2 separate regions of the Homo sapiens genome follow, and region 2 is linked to region 1. Evidence: fine-mapped expression QTL. Tissue or cell type: tibial artery. Region 1 holds a variant in brackets; the other region holds the start of a gene. All regions are shown on one strand. Distances are from middle to middle.

Region 1 (8,105 bases):
CTTGCACATATAATGGAATATACAATTCTATATGTGATTGTATCTGTTAGTAATAGTATATATTTTACCTTCTGAAACATCTGAACAGGCTGCTTATTTATAAAGACATAAGTGGAAATCCAAGCAGTATCCATCATATATGTGTTAATATATATTATAAAAATGTTTTTTAAAAGAGCTTTCATCTGGTTATAAAATTAATACATATGTTTATATTATAAAACTTGGAACAAAACGTTTTTGTGATTATAAAATGATATATTCATTGATATTATAAAGTTTGGAAAATCAGGAATAAACTATTATCCATAATTAATATCCAAACAAAAATATTTGGTGTGATGGAAACCTCCTTAGAGCAAGTATGTAGACTACCAAGATAGTGATTTTTTTTTTTTTTTTGAGACAGAGTCTTGTTCTGTCACCCAGGCTGGAGTGCAATGGCACCATCTTGGCTCACTGCAACCTCCGCCTCCCAGGTTCAAGCAATTCTCCTGCCTCAGTTTCCAGAGTAGCTGGGATTACAGGCACCTGCCACCACGCCCGGCTACTTTTTTGTATTTTTAGTAGAGACAGGGTTTCCCTATGTTGGCCAGGCTGGTCTCGAACTCCTGACCTCAGGTGATCCACCCGCCTCAGCCTCCCAAAGTGCTAAGGATTATGGGCATGAGCCACCACACCCAGCCAATGGTGATTATTTTAAAAGCACACTTATTTGAGTACAGGCATACCTTGGAGATATTGTGAGTTCAGTTTCAGACTACTGCAAAAAAAAAAAAAGGGAATCACACAAACTTTTGGTTTCCTAGTGCATATAAAATTATGTTCACACTATACAGTAGTCTATTAAGTATGCAATAGCATTATGTCTAAAGGAGCAATGTACATACCTTAATTAAAAAGTACTTATTGCTTTAAAAATGCTAACAATCAGCAAGTCATCACCCTTTTGCTTGCAGGTCTTGCCTCACTGTTAATGGTTGCTAACTGATCAGAGTGGTGGTTGCTGAAGGTTGGGGTGGCTGTGCTATTTCTTTAGGACAATGAAGTTTGATGCATCTATGACTTTTCCTTTCACAAAAGATTTCTCTGTAGCCTCCAATGCTGTTTGATAGCATTTACCCAGAACTTTCAAAACTGGAATCAGTCTTCTCAAAGCCTGCTACTACTTTATCAAGCAAGTTCAAGTAATACTCTAAATCCTTTGCTGTCATTTCAACAATGTTCACAGCATCTTCAGCAGAAGTAGGTTCCACCTCAAGGAACTGCTTTCTTTGCTCATCCACAGAATCAGCCCCTCATCCATCTAAGCTTTATCATGAGATGGCAGCAGTTCAGTCACATCTTCAGCCTTCACTTGTAATTCTAGTGCTCTTGCTATTTTTATCACATTTACAGTGATTTTCTCCACTGAAGCCTTGAACCCCTCTAAGTCATCCAAGAGGGTTGGAATCAACTTCCTCCAAACTTCTGAACATCCTTCCAGGAATCACAAATGTTCTTAATGGCATCTAAAATGATAAATCCCTTCCAGAGGTTTTCAATTAACTTTTCCCAGATCCATCAGAGGAATCACTGTCTAGGGCAACTATAGCCTTAGAAAGTGTATATCTGAAATAATAAGACTGAAAGTCGAAATTAGTCCTTGATCCACAGGTTGCAGAATAGATCGTTGTATTAGCAGGCATGAACATAACATTCGTCTCCATCTTCATCAGAGCTCTTGGGTGACTAGGTGCATTGTTAGTGAATAGTAATATTTTGAAAGGAATCTTTTTTTTTTTAATCTGGGCAGTAGGTCTCAACAGAGGGCTTAAAATATTCAGTAAACCATACTGTAAACAGATGTGCTGTCACCCAGACTTTGATGTTTCACCGATAGAGCACAGGCAGAGTAGATTGAGCATCATTCATAGGGACTCTAGCATTTTAGGAATGGTAAAGGAGCACTGACTTCAACTTAAAGTCACCAGCTGCATTAGCCCCTAACAAAAGAGCCAGCCTGCCCCTTGAAGCTTGGAAGCCAGGCATTGACTTCTCTTCTCTAGCTATGAAAGTCCTAGATGACATCTTTTTCCAATGCAAGGCTGATTTATCCACCTTAGAAATCTATTGTTTAGTGTAATCACCTTCATCAGTGATCTGAGCTACGTCTTCTGGACAATTTGCTGGAGCTTCTCCATCAGCACTTGCTGCTTCACCTTGCACTTTTATGTTATGAAGATGGCTTCTTTCCTTAAACCTCACGATCCAGTCTCTGATAGCTTCAGAGTTTTCTTTTGCAGCTTCCTCAGCTCTGTCAGCCTTCACAGATGATACAGTTTGGATGTTTGTCCCCTTAAAATATCATGTTAACATATGATTCCCAATGTTGGAGGTGGGGCCTGGTGGGCGGTGATTGGGTCATGGCGGGTGAATCCCTCATGTCTTGGTGCTGTCCTCATGAGGGTGAGTGAGTTCTGGTGAGATCTGGTTGTTTAAAAGTGTGTGGCAGCCCCCACTCCCTCTCTTGCTCCCATTCTCACTGTGTGATGTGCCTGCTTCCCCTTTACCTTCTGCCACAATCAAAAGCTCCCTCAGGCCCTCACCAGAAGCAAGTGTCAGCACCATACTTCTTATACAGCCTGCAGAACCAGGAGCCAATTAGACCTCTTTTCTTTACAAATCACCCAGCCTCAGGTATTTCTTTATAGCAACACAAGAACAGTCTTACTCAATAGAATTGAAGAGAGTTGGGGGCCTTGCTCTGGATTAGGCTTTGGCTTATGGGAATGTGGTGGCTGGTTTGATCTTCTATTCAGACCACTCAAACTTTCTCCCTATCAGCACTAAGGCTGTTTTGTTTTCTTATCATTCATGTGTTCACTAGAGTAGGACTTTTAACTTTTCAAGAACTTTTTCTTTGCATTCACAACTTGGCTTGTTTGACATAAGAGGCCTAGCTAGCTTTCAACCTGTCTGGGCTTTCAACATGCCTTCCTCACACTCTTAATAATTTCTAGCTTTTAATTTAAAATTAGAGACATGCAACTTTTCCTTTCACTGGAACACTTAGAAACCATTGTAGGCTTAGTGATTGGCCTAATTTCAATATTATTGTATCTTGGGGAATAGGGAGGCTTGAAGAGAGGGAGAGAAATGAAGGAGACGCTGGTTGGTGGAGCAGTCAGAACACACACGACATTTATCAATTAAATTTGCCATCTTATATGGGCATGGTTCATGAAGCTCCAAAACAATTACAATAGTAACATCAAAGATCACAGATTACCACAACAGATATAATAGTCATAAAAACGTTCAAAATATTGTAAGAGTTACCAAAATGTGACACAGAGACACAAAGTGAGCACATGCTGTTGGAAAAACAGTGCTGATAGACTTGCTCAACACAGGGTTGTCACAAACCTTCAATTTCTAAAAAAAATACAATATCTGTGAAGTGCAATAAAGCCACAATAAAACAAGGTGTGCCTGAATACAAATGATGGTATTTACACATATAATGAATATTCCTGTGTATGCCTATTCATGTATATATATTTTTAGTCAATCTCATCCTATGGAATCCCTTTAATCCCCACTTCTAGTCCCAATTCTAGGACTTAGAGTCCTAAGGGGTAGCTGTGGAAGCATCAGATACACAGTCACTATGGTAGCCTGTCTCTTGTGTAGTTCCCTGCCAGCAGCCATGTGAGTGCACCATCCTGAAGTCAGGTCCTCCAGCCCCAGTCAGGCCTTCAGATGACCACAGCCCCCAATACTATGAGGAGAGATCCTATCATGAGAGATCCTGAGCCAGAACCATCCAGCTAAACTGCTCCTCAACTTCTGATCCACAGAAACTATGGATTAATAAACTCGTATTGTTGGTTTAAGCCCAAGATTTGGAGTAATTTATTATGCAGATAACAAATATACTGGCTTTAAATCAGACAATATAACCTAAACCCAGTCTCTATCACTTACTGGATAATGGCCTTGGGAATCACACTTTATCTCTTATTTATAAATTATTTAAAATGGAAATAATATTACCTACCTCAAAGCATTGCTTTAAAGAGTAAATGTGATCATATAGCACAGGGTCAGCATTCCTTGGGTGACTAATTCATTTCAGTTTCTCATTTTTAGCACCAGAAGTGCAGCATCTGGAGAAGCCCCTCAATCCTGGGAAGACTGGGATAGTTGCTTATCCTAGTATTCATTGAAAA[C/T]TGGATGAAGGTGAAAGGCGTCAGTGGCATATAGAAAATCAAGAAAGCCTAGAAACACCAGATGAACTTACCCCATCCCCTACTTACCTACACATGAAGAGATGTCCTGGCTATAGATTGTATCATCGTATCTGCGAGACCTGGATTCCCAGGTCTTGGGAATACAATGAGGTTGCTTCTTAGACATTCGGCAGTGCCTCTGGAGACTCCTGGCCTGCTGAGGAGCTCTGCTGCCTCCGTCACTCTGGTCTTGCAGTGGAGACTCCGGGTATTGCCATGAGCATGCTTCCTGAAGAATGAGACAGGGCCTGCACTGGAAACAATGCCAGTCTAGAACATCGTATCAGACACTGCTGAAGGATTTTGGGGCACTGACAGGGAAGTGCACCTCAACCAGTGCTAGAAATGGCTACTCTTACACCCAAACCTGACCTTGGAGGCCCTTACCAGGCAGGCTCCCTGGCCAGCCTTCAGTCAGCCTCCAGGGACCCCTAAGATCTCCCAGCCCCTTAGAGTCCACATGCTATGGGACACACCTCCCTCCATTCTGCCTGGAGGTCTCACCTCCAGACCTCCTTGCACTCTGCGCATCTCCACCAACCCACTCCACACATGACTGGTGCCTTCTTGTCCTTCAGGTCTATGCTGAGCCACTGCTTCCTTTTAGAATGTCCCCCAAGACCCAGGGATGGGTCCCAAACCTTGTCCTGGAGGTGGTGCATTGCAGGCCATGGCATGGGTGCCCCTTTGCTTGTCTGCCCCCACTACCACCTGCCAGCAGCCTGCTTGAGCTCAGGACTGTCCTTGTTCACCCTTCTCTTTTCAGTGTCACCACGGTGCCTGCCACATAATAGATGCTCAATAAATAACTGCCAGTTAAATGAATAAATGGCTTTCATTCCACTTTGCTCAATTTTCCAAAGACTGAGAGCTGGGAAGAGTCAAATGCTCCTTCTGCTCCTTCAAGGCCACAGTTTGCTCTGGCTAATGAGCCAGCCACGGGAAGAGGGAGCAAGGACTGGAGTGCTCATCCTCACACAGGATGCATAGTGGTGCACAGCAACAGCACTTCAGCATCCAGGAGTGCCTGTCACAAAGCAAGGGCAGGAGTGGTCATGGCTCTTAAAGGATGTCAGGGGATGTAGTTCTCTGGCTACACTGCTCACTTAGGAAGTCAGGGATAAAAGTAACAAGCTCTGAATGAGTTTTCTTGCTTTTGCAAAACAATATGACACAGACCTGGACTGGGCCATTTGGTAAACTCCAGTGCTGATGGACTCCTGTGACAGGGAGCTTCAGCCTGCAACGACTGAACTGCCCACCTGCAGGTGCAAGCACAGGTAGTGGGTAGTCTGGTGACACGCCAGGGGACGATGCTCAGGCAGTACAGAGGCAGCTAGCCTCGGGGCCATGCCGGGAAGCAGGAGCGAGCGAGGCCATGGCAGCCTGGGCTCCTTGCCAGGGGCTCCTACTTCATGCATCATGTGTCTCGTTGGAGAGAAGAATGTCTTCCAGGAATCCCGGTCACCTCAACATCTGGTTTAGTGCTTTTTCCTCCAGCCCAAATAAAGTGACTTGTTACTTTCAAAATCAGGTCCAAGTAAACAGAGGGGAAGGGTGTTTCCACAAACAGACTTCGTTCCATCTGGTAAACAAGAGAAAAAAAGGGTTGGAGGGCAAAGTGAAGCCTTGCGAAGGGCAGCAGAATGGAGTGGGCAGCCTGCAGGATATTTGCGGTGAGTGCAACATGCTGAAATCCAGGCTCTGAGACAGCTTGTCTGCTGGGCTGCTGAACAGGGAGGGAAGAAACTGCATGCTAATGAGCTATTTGCTATGACGTGGCTGCTATGGGGAGGTAAGCACTATCCCGTATGTGATTCTCCAAGACAGCACTGTGACCAACACACATAAAGTGTCAGGCTGAACAGCTGCAGCCGCCCTTGGGGTTGAGGGAAGGGCTCTTGTAACATTAATTGAATGCCCTTATGCTTTTACATGTTTTCTTTAATGCAATCCTTGCAACAAAGCTGTAAAGAGGAATTATCATCCCTGCTTTATTAATTAGACTAAGCAACTTAAGTGCACACAACTAGTAAATTCAGAACCATGATCCGAACCTGGAGCTCCTACCATTGTTCTGTAGTGCGAGGTGCCACCTTCAGACTACGGCCTCTGCATTACTGTCTTAGACACTTTCCACACGAGGGCTGAGTAACTTTGTTTTCTAGTTTAATGGTGATTTCAATAGGTCCATAGCCAATCACAGCAAGCTATTGATGAGAACATTCTCAGTGAGCATAAACCCCTGGGCCAACCACTCTGCTTCACATTTGCAATCCTGCCTCCTCCTACATTGGGATTTAGCACATTTTCCACAAGGTGGAGCATCGAGGTAACTACATAAAACTCACACTCACTTATGCTTTTTTTTTTTTTTTTCGAATTTGAAAATCCAAATTCCCCATCTGCTCACAAAGTCTTGTCTGGAATTAACCAGACAGAATGATAGCCTCACATTATAGAGTGGGTGCCCAGTTAAGGAAGCAAGTTGAATTTACAGCGGTAACCTTTGCTTGCCAGGAAAGTCATCCAACTGGGGTTGGAAAACCAGTCCTCAAATCTTGAGTATTAATTGGACCTTTGGCCAAAGCAATCACTCTATCAGCCAATTAAGGTCCTTGGAGCAAGAGCATACTGTCACTCAGAGCCAACACAGGCAGCTTAAGCCCTGGTCACAGACCATTTCTTTCCCTCTGCCGCCAAACCCATGCCTTTGCCCCTTTGTCTCCAGTGACTCGAGTTTCCCTTCTTCCGTCTGCAAGCAAAATTAGAGGGCTTTAGAGCTCTCCAGGACCCAGCTACCTATGAGTATTTTAAAAAGAAGCCACAGCTAATCTATTGAAATTTGTAAAGTTTGTGAATTTTCAGTGAGGGTCATCAGGGAGTTTGTTTCCTTCTGGAAAGAGACAAAGAGAAGTGGGAACCAAGAGGAGTGGGAATTTGGAGACCAGCTGATGGGATGGAATTGCGTGGAAGACATGCCAACTTCTCACCATCTTTCTTTCCAGTGTGAAAAGGAACACGTATTCAACACCTGCACTCTTTCTGTTACTGTTTTCGGCATCATATTGACTAGTATGTTCCAATGGCACTCATGTTTCCAATGAGTGTGAACCATCGCTCACTGGAAAGACACATATAGACACTCTGGTGTCCATGGGTATAGGTTGGAATCCAGGCTCTGTCACTTTCTAGTTATAAAATTCTGGACAAGAAACTTACACTCTCAAAGCTTCCATGCTGCCAACCTTAGGTTGCCAAAAGGTTTACATGAAAATTATTTCACACAGTTAACACATGGTATGTACTCAATAAATGTTAGTCACTATTGTTATTGTTATCTGCTGGCCATTTTTCCAAATCCTCTCTCACTCAGAGACTCCTCTCCATTTAAAAAAAAAAAGTATAAAATTGGACATTTCTGTGGGCCCCAAATCTGTATATTTTCTAACTTAGACCAGTGGCAAGCTTGTACTAGGATACATGGGACCAAGCCAAGCTCTCCAGAGAGTCTCTGGTGAATTACAATGTGGATGCTAAGCCCCACATATAGGAAGCAGAAAGTCTTTTTTGATATATGACCAGGAAAATGGAGAATTGAGGCAATCGCAATAAAGTTTTGACTCACTTGAGATATCCCAATCATTGAGGAAAAAAAAGTATTCTGTGGACTTAATTATCTGAAAAATTGCTTCAAGCTTCCAGGGAATCCTGTAGACAGTGAAATGATTGACATGACTTCCCCACAGCACATGATTTGTATGGCCGCCCACAAAAGCAAGAATAACCAGTCAGTGAAAGACTGAATTGGTAAAAAGCTAGAGGAACATT
Region 2 (8,105 bases), 150 kb after region 1:
CCAGCTATATAGAAGGCTGAGGCAGGAGGACGGCTTGAGCCCAGGAGGTTGAGGCTGCAAGTGAGTCTGGATGACAGAGTGAGACCTTGTCTCAGGCAAAACAAACCAAACCAAACGGTACACAAGTAAATACACATACTCTTGCACAAATGAGTACAAAAACTGAGGAAATCTGAATGAGATTGGTGAATTCTATCAACGCCAATATGCTGCTTGTGCTATTGCTCTATAGTATTTGAAGACATGACCATGTCACTCACTGTATTTCTTAAAAATACATTTGAATCTACAATTATTAGTTGAAAAAAATATTTATGAGACAGAGGAAGAGAACTCGGAGGGCCTTCAGTTGTTGATGTCAGGACATTACCACCATAGCTGAAGGCCAGAATTCAGAAAACCACTCCTGCTGCCATGCTGCTCCCCCAACCCAAGTGGCTCTCATGCCCATGAAAACGGTGACTAGACCCAAACTTGGACTCTAACTGCCGTTAATCCTCATGTCAGTTGGACCAGAAAGCAGAAGGATGGCTTCTGTTTCACTTCCACCTGCCAGATTGAGCAGGAACGCATCTAATTGACAAAGCTCAATTTGCTTCCTATATATGAGATGCAAAATGGTCTGGGACATGTGGCTTTGAGCACTCTAATTTTTCCAAAGAGAGTATGGAATGGGAGTTGAATGAGCATAATATCTACCATAACCAGCCACTAGCTATGTGGCCTTGGGCGAGTTTATTAATGTTTCCAATCCTCAGTTTCTGACTCTATGAAATAAAGATCATTATCATACTGAGTGTGGACAAACTCAAATTGTTTTTCCCCTGCTCTAACAAAACACCAATCAACAGAGAAGACTTCTGTGACCAAGTATGCATGGGATTTCTTCCCACCCACAAGCAGGCAATCAATTCTATAGGGCACACCAGCTGGGTGCCCTTCAATTCCATTCAACTCTGACACTGTCTCCTTGGAGATAGCATCAGATCCCACAGGTCAAGGGCTCAGTCCCCAATACTGTGCCCCCGCCAACTTCTGATGCCAATTGCAAGCCCCAGGTTATTCTACCTGTGCTTCTGACTGGCCAAAAAGTGGGCTTCACGTGACCCCCTTCTTAGGTTTATTAATCTGAAAGAGTGGCTCACGGAACTCAGGGAATCTCTTACTCAGGATTACCAGTTTACTGGTATGACAAAGTATATGACAAAGGATGCAGATGAGGAGATGTACAGGGCAAGGAATAGGAGGAGCTTGGAGCTTTGGTGCCCACCCTGAAGCGTCACCCTCCATGTACCTCCACGTGTTCAACTATCTAGAACTCTCTGCACACAGTCCTTTTTGGGTTTTTATGGAGGCTTCATTATGTCGGCATGATTGATTAAATCGTTGGCCGTTGGTGATCAACTTAACCATCAGCTTCTCTCTCCTCCCTGGAGGTTAGGGGATGGGGCTGAAAGTCCCAGCCCTCTAATCCTGCATTGGTCTTTACAATGACCAGTTTCCACCCTGAAGCCACCTAAGGGCTGCCAGCCAACAGTGAACTCACTCATTACCCTACAAAATACATCGCTTTGGTGATTCTAAGCATTTTAGAAATCATATGCCAGGAAAACAGAAATGAAGACCAAATATAGATTTCACCACAGCAGACGCACTTACCTCCTGGAGTTGGCTGAGATGCAGCACGCTGCCCCACACATCTCACACGCTCCCTCCATCCATGCTGGCCATTAGCATGGTTTGTGCAATCTGAGAAAGAAGATCAGCAAATGTTCCATGTGAAAAGCAAAGGAAAGAAATGTTTAAAAAAGGAGAGGAGAGAGAATTTTAAAGGGAATGCTGGAGAATCGTTCTTGAATAACTGGCATGCACTCAGTGGCAAGAGATGGGAAAGAAAGAAGTGAAAAATGTTATTCCACATATTTAGTCTTGTACAGAATGATTGACTTTTATCCAATTAGAGGACTTGGAGTTGGAGGCCTCACTCTTTTCTCTATATTTTGTATCATATTAAAACAAATATGAAAATGTTATGAAAAGTCATAAAATGATTCAATATCATATCCCTTTCAGATTATAGCCCCTTGAAGATTATTTCTCCTCTACTGCTATACCCTCAGCAGCTAGTATGTTTCTGGAGATTAGCCAAGTTTGTGAGTAAAGGTATCAGCATCAACAATTAGCTACCAAATGTATTTGCTTCTTCTGACATACCATGAAGTCACTGTATAGTATAGCCAGTGTCTGTCAGTTCAACCACCCGCTTGTTAACATCTTTCACTGGCCTCCTGGAGAAGGGTTACTCAGCCTCAGCACTATTGACATTTTGGGCTAGAAAAATCTTTGTTGTGGGAGCTTCCTGTGCACTGCAGATGGTGAGCAAAATACTTAACCTCTACTCATTAGATACCTATAGCACAACTCCATTTGTGACAATCAAAAATGCCTCCAGACATTGTCAAATGTCCCCTGGGGGCAAAATCACCCAGGGATGAGAACTGTGTTAGAGGAAAACACAACTGAGCCATCACCCTTAGAGCTTTCCACTACCGCTGGTCGCTTTACTTCTAGTTAATGTAATCTTCTTATGCTGCCCCAGACCCTGTGCTGACGTTGTTCAAGTTGCCCTAATGCTACTGGGAAAATGACAACAACCTCCACTACCAACCTCCTCCCTCCGAGCCCACAAACAGTTAAAAAAAAGAACCTCTTTTTCCCTCTAGCTGTCAATCATGGGTTGAATTTTGTCCCTCCCCCAATTAATATATTGATGTCTTAACTCTTAGTAGCTCAAAATGTGACTGTATTTGGAAATAAGGTCATTAAAGAGGGTCCTAATCAAATGTAACTGGTGTTCTTATAAGAACAGGAAGTTTGGACACAGACACACATACAGAGAGAACGCCATGTGAACATGAAGACAGCCAGCTACAAGAAAAGGAGAGAGGCCTCAGAAGAAATCAGCCCTTGATCCTAAACTTCCAGTCTCCAGAACTGTGAGGAAATAAATTTCTATCGTTTGTCACCCTATGGATGGTACGTTGCTGTAGCAGACCTACCACCTGTCTTCAGAAAAGTTCTCTAGAGAAATAGCCTTTATTCTTCAAGCTTCCTCTGACCTACCATTTCCCATCATTTTATAAATATTTTCAGGCCCTAATAATGTTGATTTTTTTTCCATTTTTCTTCTACTGTCACACACTTCTAGGGCAGGTGTTTGGTGGTGTGACAGGAAATTGACTGGTGTCAACTTCCAGTGTTTGTGTGATAGGAGGTCTCAAAACTACAGGATAAATGTGTCATATCTCCCATAAGTATCAGTTTTGCTCAGTGATTTTTTTTTTTTTTTTTTGAGATGGAGTTTTGCTCTTCTTGCCCAGGCTGGAACGCAATGGCAAGATCTCGGCTCACTGCAACCTCCTCCTCCCGGGTTCAAGCGATTCTTCTGCCTCAGCCTCCAGAGTAGCTGGGATTACAGGTGCCCACCACCACGCCTGGCTAATTTTTTGTATTTTTAGTAGAGACGGGTTTTCACCGTGTTGGCCAGGCTGGTCTTGAACTCCTGACCTCAGGTGATCCACCTGCCGCAGCTTCCCAAAGTGCTGGGATTACAGGCGTGAGCCACTGCGCCCGGCTTGCTCAGTGATTTTTTTAAGGAAAATGTTAAATAATTGGCTCATGCATTAATTTAAAGCGTATTTACATGAAAATGAGTATAGTTTTAGCATATTCCCGTATATTTCACAGACATTTCTAGCTTATAGCATGTTCCTCTCAATGGAAGTGTTCCCTCTCCTCAGCTTCAGGGTCTCTTCATCACTCAGAGGCACCATCAGATGTTTGTTGAGCCATTCTCCTCATAGAACGCAGAGGAGAGGCCAGGTGTGAAACCAGACCAGTCTATCTATAGCTAAGAAATATTCCTAACGGACCTCGAGGAGCGCGAGAGGGAGGTTTTAAATGTAATCCTGAGCTTTTCTGATTTTGGGGTTCCAGGTCTGCTATACATACTCTTGCACGTTATATTGGGCACAGCCCTAGTAACTCTGTGATTTGAAATGATGATCTGAAGTTATCGATTAGGGAGAGGAATGTGGACAGAGAAGCAGAGCAACGGAGACCGGGAAGTTTCCGTCTGTGTCCTGGATTGCAGCCAACTGCTTAGGCACACACACCTGCTGCCCTCCCGGCTCTGAGTCACCTCCTCTCCTCTCCCTGTCCAACGAGCAGCTGCCAAATGGCAGCCAAATCCAACAGATGTAAGCCGGGACCCCACCTGTGTTTGAATTACTTTCTTTGAAATCTGCCACGTCCAGGTTTATTGACCCGGGCAGTCTTTTCAACATTTCCTTATGCCGCATACGGGTGGGGCTAGGGACTTTCTTGTGCACTGGCAGTCCTCAGAAGAGAAAACTTTGAATTCAGCTATTTGGAACCTCGTTACTGGTTCCGAGCCTCAGGAAAGGCCAGAAGAGCGAGAGCCAGCCTAGTTAGTCACTCCCACATCTGTGACCCCCGTTTACGGGCCTTGTACGCTACTGCCCTTCAGGTACCATAAACCGGGCTTCTCAAAGGGCACTGCAACAGGTTTCCAGGAATTATTTATCAAAGTCCATGACCCCGGCCCTGTGACCCCTGGGTTTGAAAATTCAGACCTTCAGCCTAACGGAGAGGTCGGCTCAGCGTTCCTCCCAGCATCCTCGGGCGATATTAGGGTCCTGGGAGATTCGGGAGGCCACTGCGTCCAGGCCCCCCACGGCCAGCCAGGCGAGAGGCGGGACGCGAAGCCGCGGCCTCCTTCCTCTTCCCTGAGGCGGTGGCGGCGGCAGGCCCCGCCCCTCCCGCGCGGTGGCCGTCGGCGGAGGGGCGGGGCCTGCTACAGCGTCGCCGGCTGACGCGAATGACGCTGCGCCAGTCAGGCCGCAGCCCCGCTGCTTGGCCCGTCGGGCCCGCCTTGGCCGGCTCGGCCCGCCCCCGGCCCTCCCTGCACGGCCTCCCGTGCGCCCCTGTCAGACTGTGGCGGCCGGTCGCGCGGTGCGCTCTCCCTCCCTGCCCGCAGCCTGGAGAGGCGCTTCGTGCTGCACACCCCCGCGTTCCTGCCGGCACCGCGCCTGCCCTCTGCCGCGCTCCGCCCTGCCGCCGACCGCACGCCCGCCGCGGGACATGGCACACGCACCGGCACGCTGCCCCAGCGCCCGGGGCTCCGGGGACGGCGAGATGGGCAAGCCCAGGAACGTGGCGCTCATCACCGGTATCACAGGCCAGGTGAGTGCGGGGGCGGGGGCGCGCCGGCCGAGGCAGCCTGGGCACGCGTGCTCTCCCTACGCGCCGCTACTCGTGGGCTGCGGTCTCTCCAGGAACAGCCCTCTCGGCGTCCCGGAAGGGGTCTGCTGCCGGGAGGTGGGACGGAAGGTACGGTGCAGTTAGTGTGTTGCGTGTGGGGTGTGCGGGATACATCGAGCGCCTCTGGTCTTTCTCTGGGGGCTGTGAGCGTGTGTGCCGCGCGGGATGTCGCGCTCACACCCGGGCAGGACCGCCCGCTCTCACCTGCCCCTCAGGTGACCGCAGCGTCTCTTCCTCCAAGCCCATGTCGTGCTTCGCAGCTCCTAGTGCCGGAAAGGGAAAAGAACCGGTGATCAATGAACTTGCGGGTGAGGTCTTCTTGATGTGTCTCGGCTCAAGGGGCGCTTACCTGCTAACGTTTGGGAAGCAAGAAAAAGGGTGCTTTGCTGGTTTCGTCCCCTATCACCGGATTTCCAGATAGAAAAGAGAACATGAAAGAAAGTAATGCTGTGGAGTCACCTACTAGGACATGTTTAGGAAAAAGAACTTAAAAAACTTTTTAAAATCACGCCAACTTCTGAGATTCAGGTTGACACATTTGGAAGTGTATCCGAGGCACACTGGTCCAAAAGTGCGGCTAGTTCCATTTTCAAAGGAATAAGTTCGTCGAGTAAGGTAATCAAGAGGAGGTCTTCGGAATGTCTCAGGCTAAGCATGGCTGGTTTGTGAGGGTCGCCTCTTAGAGGTGTTGCAGTAGGTGGGATCCGACCGCTGTGTCTTACCAAGCTGTGCTGTTTTAGATTCAGTGGTCATGAAGTAATCGTGCCCACATATTGCTGTAGAAAGAATGTGATGTGTGTGCTCCTGGGTATCTCTGGGTGGTGGCCAATATAACACTGAGATAAAGGTGATAATGGCTAATACATATTGTGTCTATCATGTTCCAGTCGCTTGCCTAACATTAACTCATTTAGTTCTCATAACAAACTCTTTGAGGAGGTACTTTTATTATCTCTATATATGTGGAAACTGAGGCATGGGAGTTTGATTTGCCTGAGGTTAAACCGCTGGGAAGTGTCCAGTTGGTATTGAAACCACTCTCAAAGTTCTCTAGTGTTAGAAAGGGCTAAGTGGGCAGGAGGCAGCGGCTCATACTTGAAATCTCAGCACTTCGGTGTGCAGAGGTGGAAGGATTGCTCGAGGTGAGGCCAGGAGTTTGAGACCAGCCTGGGCAACATATTGAGACGTTGTCTCTACAAAAAAATTTAAAAAATGAGGCAGGCATGTTGGTGCTCACCTGTAGTGCTAGCTACTCAGGAGGCTGAGGCAGGAGGATCACTTGAGTCCGGGAGTCTGAGGCTGCTGCAGTGAGCAATGATGGTACCACTGTACTCCAGCCTGGGGCAAGAGAGTGAGATCCTGCCTCAAAAAAAAAAAAAAAAAAAAAAAAAAAAAAAAAGAAGGAGAAGTTGAAATTGGCCAGATGCACAGTCACAGAATATTACACAATTTCAAGTATTGAATACCTGATTTACTGCTGGTTATTCATGCATCTTGCTTTGCTTAAGGTAATCATAATAGACAAGAGTTTGAAAACTAGTAAGAGGTGGATCTGAGTTTGAAAACTAGTAAGAGGGCAAGGATCTGAGGTTGAGAAATTGAATCCTTGAATTGAGGCAGTAAGACAGGTCAGGGCCTACATACTGTCCTCCCCCTTCTCTTTGTTTTCTAATGCTGGGACCTTTCTGCAGATGATTCCCTTTTTTCCATTTTGTCAGACTGGACCTGAAGCTCAAATGTTTACCAAGTTTACCTAATCTCTGGAAAGTAGAGATTTTATTTTAGTATTGTCCGGAAATTAGTTAAGATTAACATCTTAACTAATGTGCTGTGTTGGTGTGGCCTATACCAATTTACACGACCAGCAGTATGAATCAGTGCAGATTAGAAATGGAACCTAATTTTGACTTTTAAGAGCAGTCATTTGGCTGGAACTGAGTGGCCAGGAAGGTATGGAAGTGGGCCCCCACTCTAGTTTGTCCTGCAGCCTGTCATGGGAGTCTACCTGAAGCACCACACTCAGCAGACCACTCCCTGACTGGAATTTTTTGGTTCCTCATTTCATTTCCAACTTAAAACACCTGCATGGCTTTCAGGTTGGGTTGAATCTCTGCCCCAGTGTTTCTTTCTTCCCTCCGGCATCTGCCCTCTGCATTGTCTCCTCATTTGGTGTTGCATTGGCTTCTGTACCCCTAGCATAGTGCTGAATTCTGTAGCTACCACATAAACACTTGCAGATGGAATTTACTGCTCTTTTATGTTTTTTATTTGTATTCCAGGACAGTGACTCCCAACTTGAGTATCAAGGATCTCTGGAGCACTGTGGTGTTAATGCAAGGGGTCTGAAAATCCATACCTTATTGTATGTTTTCTTAATAATATTGGCTGAGAACTTACTGAGCTATTCACTCTGCTAAGCATTTTGTATATCCCTACCTAAGAGACAGGTATAATAAGTATCCCCATTTATCCCTGGCTAAGTAAGGTTAAATATGTTCCCTGAGGTCGTACATCTAATGAGTGTCAGAACTGAGATCTGAACCCAGATCTCAGCAGTTGCTGTAAGTCATTTTGTTATACAGACTGTGGTGAGCCTTATGAGACAGAGAGAAATAAATAGTCTTACTCTAAGAAGAGATTTCAGATTCAAATGCCACTGCTCTGGCACTTGGGGCTATCATGGCATTTGTGCCAAGATGGGCTCTTAAATGGGTTGTCCCAAATTCCCGCTTGAGAATAGTGCGGACAGCCAGGGTGTCCTG

Evidence for each region. PIP is the estimated chance that this variant, and not a neighbour inherited with it, causes the effect.
Region 2: it holds the start of GMDS-DT, and the variant in region 1 is fine-mapped to the expression of GMDS-DT in tibial artery (GTEx, PIP 0.99). The same link has a PIP of 0.9 or more in unexposed skin.

The regions. Positions count from the first base shown.
Region 1 is chr6:2,394,975-2,403,079 of GRCh38, reverse strand. It overlaps GMDS-DT (GMDS divergent transcript), which reads right to left. Exons shown (of 7, transcript NR_046229.1): 5 at 4,302-4,503; 6 at 4,043-4,214. Among named protein-coding and RNA genes, the nearest start is that of GMDS-DT, 150 kb to the right of the region's middle. The variant C/T (reference allele first, on the strand shown) is at 4,215.
Region 2 is chr6:2,242,481-2,250,585 of GRCh38, reverse strand. It overlaps GMDS-DT (GMDS divergent transcript), which reads right to left and starts at 4,833. Exons shown (of 7, transcript NR_046229.1): 1 at 4,656-4,833; 2 at 1,660-1,749. It overlaps GMDS (GDP-mannose 4,6-dehydratase), which reads left to right and starts at 4,981. Exons shown (of 11, transcript NM_001500.4): 1 at 4,981-5,265. The coding sequence starts at 5,164. RefSeq lists a silencer at 4,709-5,338 and an enhancer at 4,839-5,339.